Linked DNA regions of Homo sapiens: region 1 is linked to region 2. The links come from fine-mapping of genetic effects on gene expression. A gene starts in region 2. The other region holds a variant in brackets. All regions are shown on one strand. Distances are from middle to middle.

Region 1 (8,393 bases), 86 kb before region 2:
AGGCCAAGGTGAGCGGATCACTTGAGGTCTGGAGTTTGAGACCAGCCTGGCCAACATGATGAAACCCCGTCTCTACTAAAAATGCAAAAATTAGCTGGCCATGGTGGTGCACACCTGTGATCCCAGCTACTTAGGAGGCTGAAGCAGGAGGATCACTTGAACCTGGGAGGCGGAGGTTGCAGTGAGCCGAGATTGTGCCATTGTACTCCAGGCTGGGTGACAGAACAAGATATTATCTCAAAAAAAAAAAAAAAAAAAAGAAGAAGGTTGGGGGGTGCCAGGCGTGGTGGCTCACGCCTGTAATTCCAGCACTTTGGGAGACGGAGGTGGGCGGATCACGAGGTCAGGAGTTCGAGACCAGGGCCAATACGGTGAAACCCCGTCTCTACTAAAAATACAAAATTTAGCTTTGTGTGGTGGCACGTGCCTGCAGTCCCAGCTACTCAGGAGGCTGAGGCAGAAGAATTGCTTGAACCCGGGAGGTGTAGGTTGCAGTGAGCCGAGATTATGCCACTGCACTCCAGCCTGGCAACAGAGCAAGACTCCATCTCTAAATAAATAAATAAATAAATATTAGCCAGGTGTGGTGGCATGCACCCGTAGTCCCACCTACTTGGGAGGCTGAGGTGGGAGGATGACCTAAGCCAGGGAAGTTGAGGCTGCAGTGAGCTGAGGTCATGCCATTGCACTCCAGCCTGGGCAACAGAGTGAGACCCTGTCTCAAAACAAAAACACAAAGAAATGTATGGAGATAGAGATAAAAGTAATTTGTAATCTCATCACTTGGAAACAATTACTGTTGGCGTTTTGCTATTTAGCTTTCTAGTCTTTATTCATCTTTTTTTTTTTTTTTTTAAGACAGAGTCTCCCTCTGTTGCCCAGGCTGGAGTGCAGTGGTATAATCATAACTCACTACGGCCTTGACTCTTGGGCCCCCCTCAGTCTCCCAAGTAGCTGGGACTATAGGGGTGTGCCACCACACACAGCCGATTTTTGGTATTTTTTATAGGGGTGGGGCTTCACCATGTTGCCCATGCTGGTCTCTAACTGCTAGACTCAAGTGATCCTCTGCCTTGACCTCCCAAAGTGCAAGGATTACAGGCATGAGCCACCATGCCCAGCCTTTAGTCTTTTTCTATATAAATATGTCATTTGTTGGGGTTAGGTTTGTAGGGGATGTGTGTGTGCACATGTATGTGTGTCTGGCTTTTTTTCCTACAAAATTGGAATCAGGCCAGGCGTGGTGGCTCACACCTGTAATCCCAGCAGTTTGGGAGGCCGAGGCAGCGGATCACCTGAGGTCAGGAGTTTGATACCAGCCTGACCAACATGGTGAAACCCCATCTCTACTAAAAATACAAAAGTAGCCAGGCGTGGTGGCACATGCCTGTAATCCCAGCTGTTCGGGAGGCTGAGGCAGGAGAATTGCTTGAACCTGGGAGGCGGAGGTTGCAGCGAGCCAAGATTGTGCCACTGCACTCCAGCCTGGGCAACAAGAGCGAAACTCCATCTCAAAAAAAAAAATAAAACAAAAGAAAAGAAAAAAAAATTGGGATCAAATTCTGTGTCCTGCTTTGTATGCCAATCTTCTTTTTGTGTGTGTGTGAGATACAGGCTCACTCCATCACCCAGGCTGGAACGCAATGGCGCGATCTTGGCTCATTGCAACCTCCGCCTCCCGGGTTCAAATGGTTCTCATACCTCAGCTTTCCAAGTAGCTGGGATTACAGGCACGTGCCACCACACCCAGCTAATTTTTGTATTTTTGGTAGAGACAGGGTTTTACCATGTTGGCCAGGCTGGTCTCGAACTCCTGACATCAAGTGATCTGCCCACTTCAGCCTCCCAAAGTGCTAGGATTACAGGCGTGAGCCACCGAACCTGGCCTGTACTCCAATATTTTAAACATAATAACAGAAAGTGAGAATCCCCCTTTACCCCGAGACCCCAGATATAATCCGCAAGTAGGTGTGGAAAGCACCTCCAAGTATTCCAGCCCATCGCGGGCGTTAACTGATTTCACCACTTCCAGGCTAACTGGGGATCCAGGGCCCTGCCCCACAGAACAGAGATCCAGTTTCTCCAACAAAGCAATGGCAAGAATAAAAGGGGAAAGGGACTGGTTATGGCTTAGAGGTCAGCAAACCTCCTCTGTAAAAGGCCAGATCGTAAATATTTTAGGCTTTCTGGGTCATATGGTCTCTGTCTCAATTACTCAATTTCACGCTTGAAGCACTGTTTATACCCTTTTCTGTATTGAGACAGCCTGTAATCACAGACGTGTGATTACCATAAAAATAGCAACCATAGACAATGCATCAACAAATAGGCATCAACTGAGCACGGGTGTGAGTTCACTCCTGTGATCCCAGCACTTTGGGAGGCCAAGGTGGGAGGACTGCTTAAGCCCAGGAGTTCAAGATCAGCCCAGACAACATGGCAAGACCTATCTCTTAAAATTTTTTTCTTTTTTGAGACGGAGTCTCGCTCTCTTGCCCAGGCTGGAGTGCAGTGGCACGATCTCGGCTCACTGCAACCTCTGCCTCCCAGGTTCAAGCAATTCTCCTGCCTCAGCCTCCTGAGTAGCTGGGATTACAGGTGTGTACCACCACACCCGGCTAATTTTTTTGTATTTTTAGTAGAGACGGGGTTTCACCATGTTGGCCAGGGTGGTCTCAAGCTTCTGACCTTGTGATCCACCCGCCTCGGCCTCCCAAAGTGCTGGGATTACAGGCATGAGCCACTGCGCCCGGCAAAAAAATTTTTTTTTAATTAGGCAGGTGTGGTGGAGTACACCTGGCATCCCAGCTACTTGGGAGGCTGAGGTGGGAGGATCACTTGAGCCCAGGAGTTGGAGGCTGCTTTGAGTTATGATCGTGCCACTGCACTCCAGCCTGAGCACCAGAGAGAGACCTTGCCTCAAAAAAAAAAAAAAAATTTAAAAAATAAATGGTTGGGAGGTTGAGGCGGGTGGATCACCTGAGGTCAGGAATTCCAGACCAGCCTGGCTAACATAGTGAAACCCCATCTCTACTAAAGATACAAAAATTAGCCAGGCCCCGTGGTGGTGGGTGCCTGTAATCCCAGCTACTCAGGAGGCTGAGGCAAGAGAATCACTTGAACTGGGGAGGCGGAGGTGGCAATGAGCCGAAATCACGCCATTGCACTCCAGCCTGGGCGACAAGAGCAAGACTCCGTGTAAAAAAAAAATTCTTTTAAAAGGGTATAGCTGTGTCTCAGAAAAACTTCATTTATAGATACAAATTTGAATTTCATATAAATTTCCCATGTCATATTATTTTTTTTCAACCACTTAAAAATGTAAAAACCAACCAGGTGCCGTGGCTCATGCCTGTAATCCCAGCACTTTGGGAGGCTGAGGCAGGCCGACTGCTTGAGCCCAGGAGTTCAAGACCAGCCTGGGCAATATAGTGAGACCTCATCTCTACAAAAAATAAAAATAAAAAATTAGCCAGTGTGCTGGCTTATACTAGTAGTCCCAGCTACTTGAAAGGCTGAGGCAGCAGAATCACTTGAGCCCAGGTGTCTGAGGCTACAGGGAGCTTTAAACTTATTTTGTAGAGTTGGGGTCTCACTATGTTGCCCAGGCTGGTCTCTAACCCCTGGGCTCAAGCAATCCTCCCTCCTCAGCCTCCTAAAGTGGTGGGATCACACCACTGTACTCCAGCCTGGGTGAAAGAGTGAGGCTCTGTCTCTATTATTTAAAAAAC[G/A]ACGACGACAACAAAACAGCTGGAGTTGCATAGTGAAGTGTTTACAGACAAAAGGTTTCGATGTCAAGGGTTTGCTCTCAATGCTCTAGGAAAAAAAGGAAAAGTATTTTGGGGGAATAGATGATTCAAGATTGAAAAAATGTTGAGACCTAATTAAGCTGAATAATGTTTTATCAAAGTCTATTATACATTCCTTTCTACTTGTGAATGTATTTGAACTTTTCTTAGATGGAGTTTCACTCTTCTTACCCAGGCCGGAGTGCAATGGTGCGATCTCAGCTCACACAACCTCCGCCTCCTGGGTTCAAGTGATTCTCCTCCCTCAGCCTCCTGAGTAGCCGGAATTACAGGCATGCGCCACCACGACCGGCTAATTTTGTATTTTTAGTAGAGATGAGGTTTCACCATGTTGGTCAGGTTGGTCTCAAACTCCTGACCTCAGGTGATCCGCCTGCCTCGGCCTCCCAAAGTGCTGGGATTACAGGCGTGAGCCACCACGCCTGGCCGAACATTTCTCATTTTATTTCATTGTTTTTTGAGACAAGGTCTCACTCTGTCACCCAGGCTGGCATACAGTGGTGCAATCTTGGCTCAATGCAACCTCTGCCTCCCAGGCTCAAGCGATCCTCCCACCTCAGCCTCCTGAGTAGCTGAGACTATAGGTGTGAGCCACCATGCTTAGCTAATTTTTGCATTTTTTTGTAGAGACAGGGTTTACCATGTTGACCAGGCTGGTCTCAAAGTCCTGGGCTTCAGCGATCTACCCACCTTGCCCTCCCAATGTGCTGAGAGTATTTGAACATTTTTATCACAAAAAGTTATTATTTTCTTCCTTTTTTGAGACAGGGTCTCGCTATATTGCCCAAGCTGGTCTCAAATTCTTGGCCTGAAGCAATCCTCCTAATTCAGTCTCCAGAGTAGCTGGGATTACAAGCACATGCCACCATTCCTGGCCAAAGTTATTTTTTTAAAAAAGTGTAGGCCGGGACTATAAAAACCAACCAGGTGCAGTGACTCCATCTCAAAAAAAAAAAGTGTTAAGAACATCTGTGAATCAAGCTGGCAGATTTCTTGCCTCATGTGTCCAAAGAAATATATGTAAAAATGACTGCTGCAGCTGCATTTGTCAGAGGAAAAGGCTAGAAATAATCTCCATGGCTGTCAACAGAGGAAAAGGTTAAGGAAACACGAAATGGAATAGTACACAGCCATGCAAAAGAATGAGCCAGCTCTGGGGCTGATGGAGAAATATTTCTTTTTTTTTTTTTTTTTGAGAAAGAGTCCTGCTCTTCTACCCAGGCTGGAGTGTAGTGGCGTGATCTTGGCTCACTGCAAGTTCCGCCTCCCGGGTTCACACCATTCTCTTGCCTCAGCCTCCCGAGAAGCTGGGACTACCGGCGCCCACCACCACGCCTGGCTAATTTTTTTGTATTTTTAGTAGAGATGGAGTTTCACAGTGTTAGCCAGGATGTTCTTGATCTCCTGACCTCATGATCCGCCCTCTTCGGCCTCCCAAAGTGCTGGGATTACAAGCGTGAGCCACTGCGCCCGGCAGAGAAATATTTCTAGGATATATTATTTAGTAGAAAAGTTCAAAGTGCAGGAAAGGGTATATACAGTAGGGAACATCTGTGTAAAACAAAAAAGTAGCCAATGTGTTGTCAATGCCTGTGGGTGCTCAGCATATTTCTGGAAAGAGATACAAGAATCAGAGAAGCTGGGAGACCAGAACTGCAGGTGGGGAGTGGGTTATTGCCTTAGTCTCTTCCTGTGCCTTCTGAATTTTGCACATAGGGTGCTGGCTTGGATGGGGCTTATGGGAAAGCTGGGGTTAAAAACTGATTGCAAGCATCAGTTTCTTTCTTTCCTTTTTTTTTTTTTCTTTTGAGACAGAGTCTCCCCCCATTGCCCAGGCTGGAGTGCAGTGGCGTGATATCGGCTCACTGCAGCCTCCACCTCTCAGGTTCAAGTGATTCTTCTGCCTCAGCCTCCCAAGTAGCTGGGATTACAGGCGTCTGTCACCATGCCCGGCTAATTTTTGTGCATTTTTAGTAGAGACGGGGTTTTGCCATGTTGGCCAGGCTGGTCTAGAACTCCTGGCCTCAGGTGATCTGCCTGTCTCAGCCTCCCAAAGTGCTGGGATTTCAGGCATGAGCCACCACGCCCGGCCACAAATAAAGTTTTATTGGCAAACAGTCACACCCATTCATTTATGCATTGTCTGTGGCTGCTGTCATGCAGAGTTGGGTAGTTGCCATAGAGACTGTATGGCCAAAAATATTTACTATCTGGCCCTTTAAGAAAAGGTTTGCTGACTCCTGGACTAAAGAAAGCAGTCGTATCCACTATTTTGCTAGAACAAAACAGCCAGGCACGGTGGCTCACGCCTGTAATCCCAACACTTCGGGAGGCTGAGGCAGGTGGATCACCTGTCAGGGGTTCAAGACCAGCCTGGCCAACATGGCAAAACCCCATCTCTACTGAAAATACAAAAATGAGTCAGGCATGCTGCGCACACCTGTAATCCTGGATACTCAGGAGGCTGAGGAAGGAGAATCACTTGAATGCAGGAGGTAGAGGTTGCAGTGAGCCAAGATCGCACCACTGCACTCTAGCCTGGGCAACAGAGGGAGACTCCATCTCAAACAAAAACAAAAACAAACCATAAAGAACATCCCCTTGGGCTGGTGTGGTGGCTCATGCCTGCAATCCTAGCACTTTGGGAGGCTGAGGAGGGAGGATCACTTAAGGTCAGGAGTTCGAGGCCAGCCTGGGAAACATAGCGAGACCCTATCTCCACGCAAAATTAAAAAAAAAGGCCAGGCATGGTGCCTCACGCTTGTAATCCCAGCACTTTGGGAGGCCAAGGCGGGCAGATCACGAGGTCAGGAGATGGAGACCATCCTGGCTAACATGGTGAAACCCCATCTTTACTAAAAATATAAAAAATTAGCTGGGCATGTGGCACGCGCCAGTAGTACCAGCTACTTGGGAGGCTGAAGCAGGAGAATTGCTTGAACCTGGGAGGTGGAGGCTGCAGTGAGCCAATACGGCACCACTGCACTCCAGTCTGGGTGACAGAGTGAGACTCCAACTCAAAAAAATAAAATAAACCTGGGAAGCGGAGCTTGCAGTGAGCCGAGATCGCGCCACTGCACTTCAGCCTGGGCGACAGAGCGAGACTCCGTCTCAAAAAAATAAAAAATAAAAAAATAAAGAACATCCCCATCCTTTTCCATGGCTGCATAGTATTCCACCATGTGAATATACTTTATGTCCACTTGGTTCTCCAACTGTGAGACACCTGGGGGGGATCTGTAGGTTTCACTCCTACTAATACTACTACTACACTCCACACACCATATCCCACATGGGTGAGGATATCTCTAGGATCAATTTCCAGAAATGGTTTTGCTGGGTTCCCAGGGGATAGGCAGTGGGGCAGTGGGAGTTCCTGCGCGTGGATCCCCTGCAATTAGACGGGACATGTGGCATACACATGGGTATCTTCCTGGGCAGATCCTCAAAGGATCAGTGACTGGGTTGGACCCTGAATCAGAGGATGGGGATGAGGGTTTGGTTCTGGGAGACCAGGGCCTGTGGCCCAGGCTGGGCACTAACCAAGGTCGTCGGCGAGCCTCCGGCCATCCTCAGCAGGCACAACACGTTCGTCCTCCAGGTCACACTTGTTCCCCACCAGGATGACCTGGGCGTTGTCCCAGGAGTAGGTCTTGATTTGCGTGGCCCTGCAGAGTTACCAGTGGTGAGCCATGAGCCGGGGGGGTTAGGGGTCAGAGGAGAGGGCAAAGATCAGGGGTCCATGATCAGCAAGCACTCACCAGTCCTGCACAGCGGCAAAGGATTCCTGATTGGCGATGTCATACATGAGCAGGAAGCCCATGGCTCCCCGGTAGTAGGCCGTGGTGATGGTGCGGTAGCGCTCCTGGCCCGCTGTGTCCTGGACAAATGGCAGTGGCAGTTGGCTGGGAACTACCTGTTTCCCAGTCCACCCCTGTCTTAGAGGGGCACTGCCCTGTACTCATAGCCCCAGCCTTACGGGGGAGACACAGACTTGCTTGTACAACCTCTGGTCTGATGGAGAATACACAGATCCTGCCCTCACAACCCCAGTCTGATGGGGGAGGCATGGATTCATTACCAAGGGATCTCCCCAGTCTGATGAGGGAGAGACTTGGGCTTGCCCTTGAGGGGTTCCAAGTCTCAGGGGTCAGTGGCCTCTCACAGACTTATGAGCCCCTTTGACCTTGTCTCTAAGAACCAACTGGGCCAGATGGTACCATCCTGACAGGACACCTTGGTACTCTTGCTACCACGATGATTGTTACCAGCGGCTAAGTTGGGAGAGGGAGCTAGGTGTGACTCTGCAGACCAGGTCGGTCCAATGGGGGTCCCAGGGTCCCCTCTAAGATGGTACCCAAAACTCTTCCCTGTTGGTCACCAGCACCTGGGACCTTTCTTTTTTCTTTCTTTCTTTTTTTAATAGATGGGGTCTTGCCCTGTCACCCATGATGGAATGCAGCGGTGCAATCATAGCTCACTGCAGCCTCGAACTCCTGGGCTCAAGCAATCCTCTTGCCTCAGCCTCCTGAATAGCTGAGACTACAGGCGGGAGCTACCATGCTGGGCTAATGTTTAAAGTTT
Region 2 (8,208 bases):
TATATATATATATACACCTATATATATATACCTTTATATATATATATACCTTTATATATATATACCTTTATATATATATATACCTTTATATATATACCTTTATATATATATACCTTTATATATATATACCTTCATATATATACATATATATATATACCTTCATATATATATATATACCTTTATATATATATACCTTTATATATACCTTTATATATATATATACCTTTATATATATACCTTTATATATATATACCTTTATATATATATACCTTCATATATATACATATATATATATACCTTCATATATATATATATATATACACCTTCATATATATATATATATATATATATATATATATATATATACCTTTATATATATATAAATAACTGAGACTTTGTCACCAGGGATAGAGAAGTGGCTGCTACTTTGTAAATTGGACAGGAAGGTGGCCACTATAATCTGGAGATTAAGCGATGGGGATTAGGGATAGAGATGCTTTTGTGATGTGGATCAGATCAAATACAGATGGGTGAAAGATGATACTTCCTAAGCAGGATGCAATTATTCAGCAAACTAATCTGTGTTGTTCCTGCCCCTGGGGACAGAGCTGGGAGCAAGAACAACAGGTCCTCCTCTCATGCACTCACAGCCTATGAGATGAGCAAAAGCCAATAATCAAGTAAGGAGGCTACGCATGCACAATGGCTTATGGCTGTAATCCCAGCATTTTGGGAGGCCAAGGCAGGCAGATCACTTGAGTTCAGGAGTTTGAGACCAGCCTGGGCAACATGGCACAACCTCACCTTTACAAAAAAATTAGCCGGGCGTGGTGACATGCGCCTGTGGTCCCAGCTACTCAGGAGGCTGAGACAGGAGAATGGCTTGAGCCCAGGAGGTGGAGGTTGCAGTGAGCCAAGATTGTGCCACTGCACTCCAGCCTGGGTAACAGTGCGAGACTCTGTCTAAAAAAAAAAATAGATAAAAAAATAAAATTAAATTAAATTAAATTTAAAAAGAAATTCAAAAATAAGAAAAATTTTACAGGCTAGGTATAGTGGCTCGCGCCTGTAATGCCAGCAGTTTTGGAGACCCAGGCGGGAGGATCACCTGAGTCCAGGATGTTGAGCCTGCACTGAGCCATGATGGAGACACTGCACTCCAGCCTGAGCAACGGAGCAAGACCCTGACTCAAAAAAAAGAAAATAAAGACAAGTATCAAGGCAATGGTTTGTAGCTAGAAACACAGAGCATCCTGACCCAACGGCACCAAGGAGGGAAAAGTATTAGACACATGCTAATACTTCAGACAAAGAATTTGTTTTTTTTTTTAGACGGAGTTTCGCTCTGGTTGTCCAGGCGAGAGTGCAATGGCACGATCTCGACTCACCGCAACCTCCGCCTCCCGGGTTCAAACGATTCTCCTGCCTCAGCCTCCCGAATAGCTGGGATTATAGACATGCCCCACCACGCCCGGCTAATTTTGTATTTTTAGTAGGGATGGGGTTTCTCCATGTTTGTCAGACTGGTCTCAAACTCCTGACCTCAGGTGATACACCATCCTTGGCCTCCCAAACTGCTGGGATACAGGCGTGAGCCACCACGCCCGGCTGACAAAGAATTATTATCCCCATTGTAAAGATGAAGAAATTGAGGCTTAGAGTTTAAAATCTTGCTTAAGTTTTGTAGCTCTGAGAGGGGAGAGAAAGCCTGTGTGGGAAGAAGCAGACAGGAAAGGCCTTCTCAGAACACGACTGGATCTGAAAACCCCTCACCTGTCCACACCTGAGGCGGCTCCTCTTCCTGCTCTCGCTCAGCCTCCTCCAAAAAATCTTCCAGAAGCTTCTCTGCTTTTTGAGCCTCAGCACTCCCTGGGGCCGCCCAGCCCAGAAAGGTTCGGACACTGCCCAGGTCCGAATGGGCAGGGTGGTCTCGGAAATCCTGAGGGTGGTCCTGCAGCCAGGAGCCCAGCACTGACACCACAGCCCTGGCCAGAGAGGCAGGGTCTCAGAGCTGGGTCCAGAGTGGGGGACATAGAATATGACTCCTGGTACCTTTTTTTTTTTTTTTTTTTTGAGATAGAGTCTTACTGTGTCACCAAGGCTGCAGTGCAATGGCCTGATCTTGACTCACTGCAACCTCAGCCTCCCGAGTAGCTGGGACTACAGGCATGCGCCACCACACCCAGCTACCTTTTTTTGTTGTTGTTGTATTTTTAGTAGAGACAGGGTTTCGCCATATTGGCCAGGATGGTCTCTAACTCCTGACCTCCAGTGATCCACCTGCCTCGGCCTCCCAAAGTGTTGGGATTACAGGCATGAGCCACCACGCCCCACCTGACTCCCAGTCTCTTATTACCCAACCTGCAATTTTCAAAACCCCAGTCCGACTGCTAACCTTTGACCTCTTGGATTTCCCTCCCCGCACTCCCCTATCTGGATGAAGGACCCACCTCAGGTTCTTGTTGAAGCTCAGATCTTGTACCGCTGTCTTCTTGATCTCTACCCTGGGAAGAGGCCCCCCAGCAGGTGAAGAAGGGGGAACCTAGAGGGGGCTTAGGAAGAGGGCTCTGGGTCTGGGAGGTGTTTCCAGGTTCCACACCTGAGGAGGTGGAGGGGGGTGCCCAGTTGGGGTTCTAGGGTGGAGAATACGGAGGTTATGGTTCGCTACTGACCCGGGAGGTGGGGGCGGTGGCATTGGTGGCAGCAGAAAGCCCAGCAGGCAGGCAGTGGGTACAAAGGTCCGGTAGGTGGCCAGGAAGGCGGGCATGAAGCTGGGGTCCTGCTCACGGTCTCCAAACACCAACTCTCCCACCAGCCGCTCCAGGCGCGCTGCCCTCAGCACCCTCACCTTGCTGGTTCGATAGTGGAGGAAGGTATTGGCAATGGGGCTGGGAGCCTGCAGGAGGGGAGAGGTGGCCATGAGAGAGCAGGAGTGGTCCTCACAGCACCCCTTCTCTAGTCACATTCATCACTAGCACCACTCTTTTTTTTTTTGTTTTTTTTTTTGAGACAGAGTCTCACTCTGTTGCCCAGGCTGGAGTGCAGTGGCACGATCTTGGGTCACTTCAACTTCTGCCTCCTGGGTTCAAGCAATCCTCCTTCCTCAGCCTCCAAGTAGCTGAAACTACAGGCGCACACCACCAAGCCCAGCTAATTTTTGTATTTTTGTAGAGATAGGGTTTCACCATGTTGGTCAGACTGGTCTCGAACTCCTGACCTCAAGTAATCTGCCCCCCTTGGCCTCCCAAAGTCTCCCAAAGGGCTAGGATTACAGGCGTGAACCACCGTGCCCAGCCCCTAGCACCACTTTTTTTTTTTTTTTTTTGAGACAGAATCTCACTCTGTCACCTAGGCTGGAGTTCAGTGGCGTGATCTTGGCTCACTGCAACCTCCGCCTCCTGGGTTCAAGCAATTCTCTGCCTCAGCCTCCCAAGTATCTGGGATTACAGGCACCCGCCACCAAGCCCAGCTAGTTTTTTCGTATTTTTAGTAGAGACGGTGTTTCACCGTCTTGGCCAGGTTGGTCTTGAACTCCTGACCTGATGATCCACTTGCCTCGGCCTCCCAAAGTGCTGGGATTACAGGCGTGAGCCACCTCGCCCCGCCTGTAGCACCATTCTTTCATGTGATTCCTCTGTCTCCCGGCTTCTTGGAGTTATTGTTTTGGTTTGTTTTTTTTAGAAACAGGTCTTGTTTTGTTGCCCAGGCTGGGGTGCAGTGGCACAATCATAGCTCACTGCAGCCTCCAAGTCCTAGACTCAAGCGGTCCCTCTGCCCCAGCCTCCTGAGTAGCTGGGACCACTGCTGGGCATCATCACGCACAGCTAGTTTTTTAATTTTTATTTTTATTAGAGAGAATCTTGCTGTGTTGTCCAGGCTGGTCTCCAATTCCTGGCCTTCTGCCTTGGTCTCTCGAAGCGCAGGGATTATAGGTGTGTGCCCCACTCCCTGCCCGCTTGAAGTTATTGTTCCTCCCCATCCACAAATAGCTCCTGCAACTTGCCCTGGAAACCCTCCCTCTCCCATGCCCTGTCCCCTACTCCCTCTCCCGTCCCCTCCCCCTCCCGTCCCCTCCCCCCACCCCCCCGCCCCCGCCCCACACACTCTTTTCCACCCAGGGCTTCCCTCAGCCCTCCTGTCGCGCTTCACTGGCTGCCCCATCCGCCCTCACCTAGCCACTTCTAAACCAACCCCATTCCACCTTCCAGCCCCGGCCCTCTAAACCTGCCTTTCCCAACTCTGCCGTCCAGTTCTGTCCTTACCAAGTTGTCCCTAGGCTCCTCTCGGGAACTGCGCGGCCATCGCCTGGCCCCACCCCATTCCCTGGATCTCCCCCCACTTACCTGGCCGCCCCCAGTCCCCTTTCTACCTGGTCGCCTCATCTGGTCGCCTCCGAGCCCCTCCCTTCCTTCCGCCCACTGCACCTGGCGGCCTGTGCTCGGCTCTCCAGCTCCGCCCTCAACTGGTCGCTTCCGGCCCCGCGCCACCCACCAAACCCCCTCCTCACCTGGCTGCCCCCGGGGCCCTCCGCCGGGCTCCTGCGCTGACTGCGCTGCCGCCGCAGGGAGACACTGTACACCGCGCCGTCCTCGGTCTCTTCACCCCAGTCCTGCAGCGGTGCCTGGACGCACAGGCGGACTCAGGGCACCAAAGGGGCACAGGTCCTGGGGCCTCAGCCTCCTTGGCCGCTCGGACTCGGGCCGAGTCCTCCTGCTGCATCCCCACGCCCCTTCCCGGCCAGAAGCTGCGAGACTAGGGCTGGGGTCCCAGGCTAGTCCCCTCCTCGCTGCGGGTCCCCTCCTCCCAGGTCCTGAGGACATGGGGTGGCATTTGGGGATGTCCCAGGGCCCAGTCTAATAGAACCTGTCTCTAGCTCTTTCTGCCGACTGCGCTCAGAGACTCGCGCCCCCATCCCTAAGAGGAACCAGTCGCTTCACTGGGTCAAGGGCCGCGAGTCCCCAGGAGGGGACTCCAGGGCAAGTTCAGATTGGGAGCAGATACCGTCCGACGGGCGGGCGCTTGGAGTTTCTGGACCTGCGGGTCACCAGGGATGCGGGGTCCGGGGATCCCTTGTCCCCTTACCAGGGCCAGCTCTTTGCCTGCTGTGCGCTCCATGGCCGGCGCCCGTCCCTCTCAGTGGCGCCGCTGAGTGAGGCGGAAGGGCCGGCGGGTGGCGGGTGGCGGGCGGCGGGCAGTGGCCGGGCGCTGAGGCCAGAGGGGCGGAGCGGCCGAGCTGCTGGGGCGGGGCGGGGCAGGGCAGGCCGGACCCAGCCTCTGGGTGCCTCCAGCCGGACCCAGCGCCAGCCCAGGAGAGGTCCTGGCTCTTCCGCTGGGTGCCTATCAATCTGTCCCCAGAAGAAAGGACATATCTGTCCCCAAGGGGTCTTTTTTGTATCCCCAGATGTGGGGGAGCTCCTGTGTGGGGGCATGTGTGTGTCCCCAGACCAGAGTCCTCTGTCCTCCAGTGGAAGGGGCTAGCTTGATCAAGTGTGGGGGCATCTTCCACTTTTTATTATTATTGCTATTATTTTGAGATGGAGTCTCGTTCTGTCACCCATGCTGGAGTACAGTGGCTTGATCTTAACTCACTGCAACCTCCGCCTCCCAGATTCAAAGGATTCTTGTGCCTCAGCCTCCCAAGTAGCTAGGATTACAGGTGCCGCCACCATGCTCAGCTAATTTTTGTATTTTTTGTAGAGGCGGGGTTTTGCCATACTTGCCAGGCTGGTCTCAAACTCCTGGCCTCAAGAGATTCGCCCACCTCAGCCTCCCAAAATGCTGGGATTACAGGCATGAACCACGGCGCCCAGCCTTATTATTTTTTAGAGACAGGGTCTCACTCCTGTTGCCAAGGCTGCAGTGCAGTGGCTTGATCTTGGCTCACTGCAATCTCCGCCTCCTGGGTTCAATCCATTCTCCTGCCTCAGTCTCCCAAGTAGCTGGGACTACAGGCATATGCCACCATGCTCAGCTTTTTTTTTTTTTTTTTTTTTTTTTTTTTTTTTTTTGGTAAAAACTGGTTTTCACCATGTTGCCCAGGCTAGTCTGGAACCCCTGGGCTCAAGCGACACACCCAGCTCAGCCTCCCAAAGTGCTGGGAATATAGGTATGAATGAGCCACTGCACCCCGCCCTTATTTTATTTATTGAGACAGGGTCTGGCTCTGTGGCCCAGGCTGGAGTGCAGTAGCACGATCATAGCTCACTGCAGCCTGGAGCTCCTGGACTCAAGTGATCCTCCCAACTCAGCCTCCCAAAATACTGGGATTACAGGCATAAAACCACTACATCGGGCCATCTCCCATTTTTAAGCTCCATCTGCGTCACTAGCTGATGGGAGTCATCATGACCCAGGTTGGAGGAGGCAGTCTGTGGCCCTGGGTTTTCAGGGACAGCCGTCTCTTGGGTGGTGCAGGGTCAAAAACAGATGAATACCCAGGGGCATGGTCGGTAACATTTATTGCGCAACTCTGAGGCCGGGGCGGACCCAGCTGGGGAGATTTACTGTGGGAACGTCTGGCCCGGCCCCTTCCTCCCCTCCGGGCGCCGCTGGCCGCCTCCGTTCCCGGTCCGGGCCGCGTTCAGCCCCTGAAGGGGCCCCGTGGGGCCTGCGCTAGACCCGGAGGGATCGGGGGCTCCGAAGGGGGCCGCCTGGTGGGTGTCAGGACGAGTCTAGGACCTCCGAGAGCGACGGTGCTTCTTGTGACTTTCGATTAATTTCTGGGAACGGATCTTGAGTGATGCGCGGGTCACTACCTCGTTGTCCTCCTCCTCACTCTCTTCGTCTAAGGGGGGTGGGGGGATGAGCAGGGAGCGATGTGGGATCCAGGTCCCCATCCCTGGCTCCCCTTCCCTTTACCACCCCACTCCACCCCCACCTTGGCCCTGAACAGGGTATCTGACAACCTCCTGCTACCCAGCTTGGGGCCCCAACCGCACCCCTTCATCCCCCCACCCATACTGACCAAAAAACTTGTCCTTGGAAGTGGCAAGGGGCAGGGCGATGCGGGTGTTGTATTCGGGCAGCCTTCCCTCTAAGCTGGCGAGGAACTAAGCGGGGATGGGAAGCGAGAGAGGAAGGTGGGCGGGGCCAGGGGCCACCGAGAAGTCACGTTCCCCCTCCTCCCTACCCCATTCCGAGATATGCCCTAGTTCCAACTGGAGACCACTGCCCACTCCCATCCCTCCTTAAGCAGGCACCTTGATACCCAGCTTCACCCCCTCATCACTCAGGTCCGCCCCTGGTCTCTGGGGCCCTGCCACTAGGCCTCTCCCCATCCGGATACCCCAGCCGCGTCCTCTAGCCTCACAGGACCCGCCTGCACCTCTTCTGGTTTCTTCCCTCGTGGCTCGGGCTCACCCCTGGCTCGTCAAACCTCGCCCGTTGTCCCCGAGACCCCTTCCTGGCTGATCAGCCTGCAATCTGGTCTCCCGAAGTTGCCCCCGGTTCCCTGGTTTTCCGACCCAGCCCTACTCCTAGATCTCTGGAGCTCTGCCCCATGGCTGCAGGGCACCTCGCGGTTAGCGATGTGGCACAGCATCTCCTGCACGTCGTGGCCCTGGAGCTGCGCCTGCAGTTTCAGCAGCTTTTCCTCCACGAGGCCCAGCAGGTTTGGCACATAGTTATCTGCCTGGGGATCCAGCTCCTTTCCCGCGAAGCGGCCGTCCTCCTGCGGCCAGGGTAGAGCCGGGTCAGCCGAGAGGGGTGGGGCCTCTTGGAAGGCTCCACCCAGGGGCGGGGCTTTTCTTTCGGGGGCGGGGCCTAGGAGGTAAGGGCCCACCTGCAGGGTCGATCCTAGCCATTGGGGGCGGGGACTTAGGTCAAGGCCACGTCTGTGATGGGGGAGCCTCTGAACTCTAACTCTATATGTAAAGGTTTCGGGGAGGCCTCTTGGGAACAGTAAGGATTCGAGGGAGGCCATTGTGGGATGGCCTCCTGAAGAAATGGCCCTCTGCTGCGGGCAGGATAGGTCTTCTGTCTCGGGCTGCTCCAGAACTGCAGATAGGTCTCCGAGCTTTTCGGGGACAGGGTGGGACTTCTTTCCCTTGGAGGCGGAGCTTGAGACGGGACAGGGTCTCTGACGTCTTGGGCTTCCTTGGGGAGTGAGAGCTTCCCCAGGGAGGTGGGGCGGGGACTCTGAGGAATGGGGTGGGGCTTCCCCTGTGGGCGGGGCCTCTGACGTCCGGGACAGAGGATGTGGCAGGCCAC

Alleles and levels. Positions count from the first base shown, and alleles are read on the strand shown. Sizes are in standard deviations (SD) of each study's normalised expression.
For the expression in whole blood of the gene that starts at base 5,151 in region 2, allele A in region 1 goes with a higher level than allele G (moderate effect, 0.48 SD a copy in Lepik 2017).

The links. PIP is the estimated chance that this variant, and not a neighbour inherited with it, causes the effect.
Region 1: its variant is fine-mapped to the expression of RGL3 in whole blood (Lepik 2017, PIP 0.95).

What each region holds. Positions count from the first base shown.
Region 1 is chr19:11,328,095-11,336,487 of GRCh38, forward strand. It overlaps RAB3D (RAB3D, member RAS oncogene family), which reads right to left. Exons shown (of 5, transcript NM_004283.4): 3 at 7,571-7,689; 4 at 7,353-7,477. Among named protein-coding and RNA genes, the nearest start is that of RAB3D, 7.4 kb to the right of the region's middle. The variant G/A (reference allele first, on the strand shown) is at 3,732.
Region 2 is chr19:11,414,164-11,422,371 of GRCh38, forward strand. RGL3 (ral guanine nucleotide dissociation stimulator like 3) reads right to left here and starts at 5,151. Exons shown (of 19, transcript NM_001035223.4): 1 at 5,083-5,151; 2 at 4,508-4,621; 3 at 2,673-2,896; 4 at 2,451-2,504; 5 at 1,774-1,985. The coding sequence starts at 5,115. ODAD3 (outer dynein arm docking complex subunit 3) reads right to left here. Exons shown (of 13, transcript NM_145045.5): 11 at 7,514-7,669; 12 at 6,965-7,049; 13 at 6,442-6,784. The coding sequence ends at 6,672. RefSeq lists an enhancer at 7,211-7,260.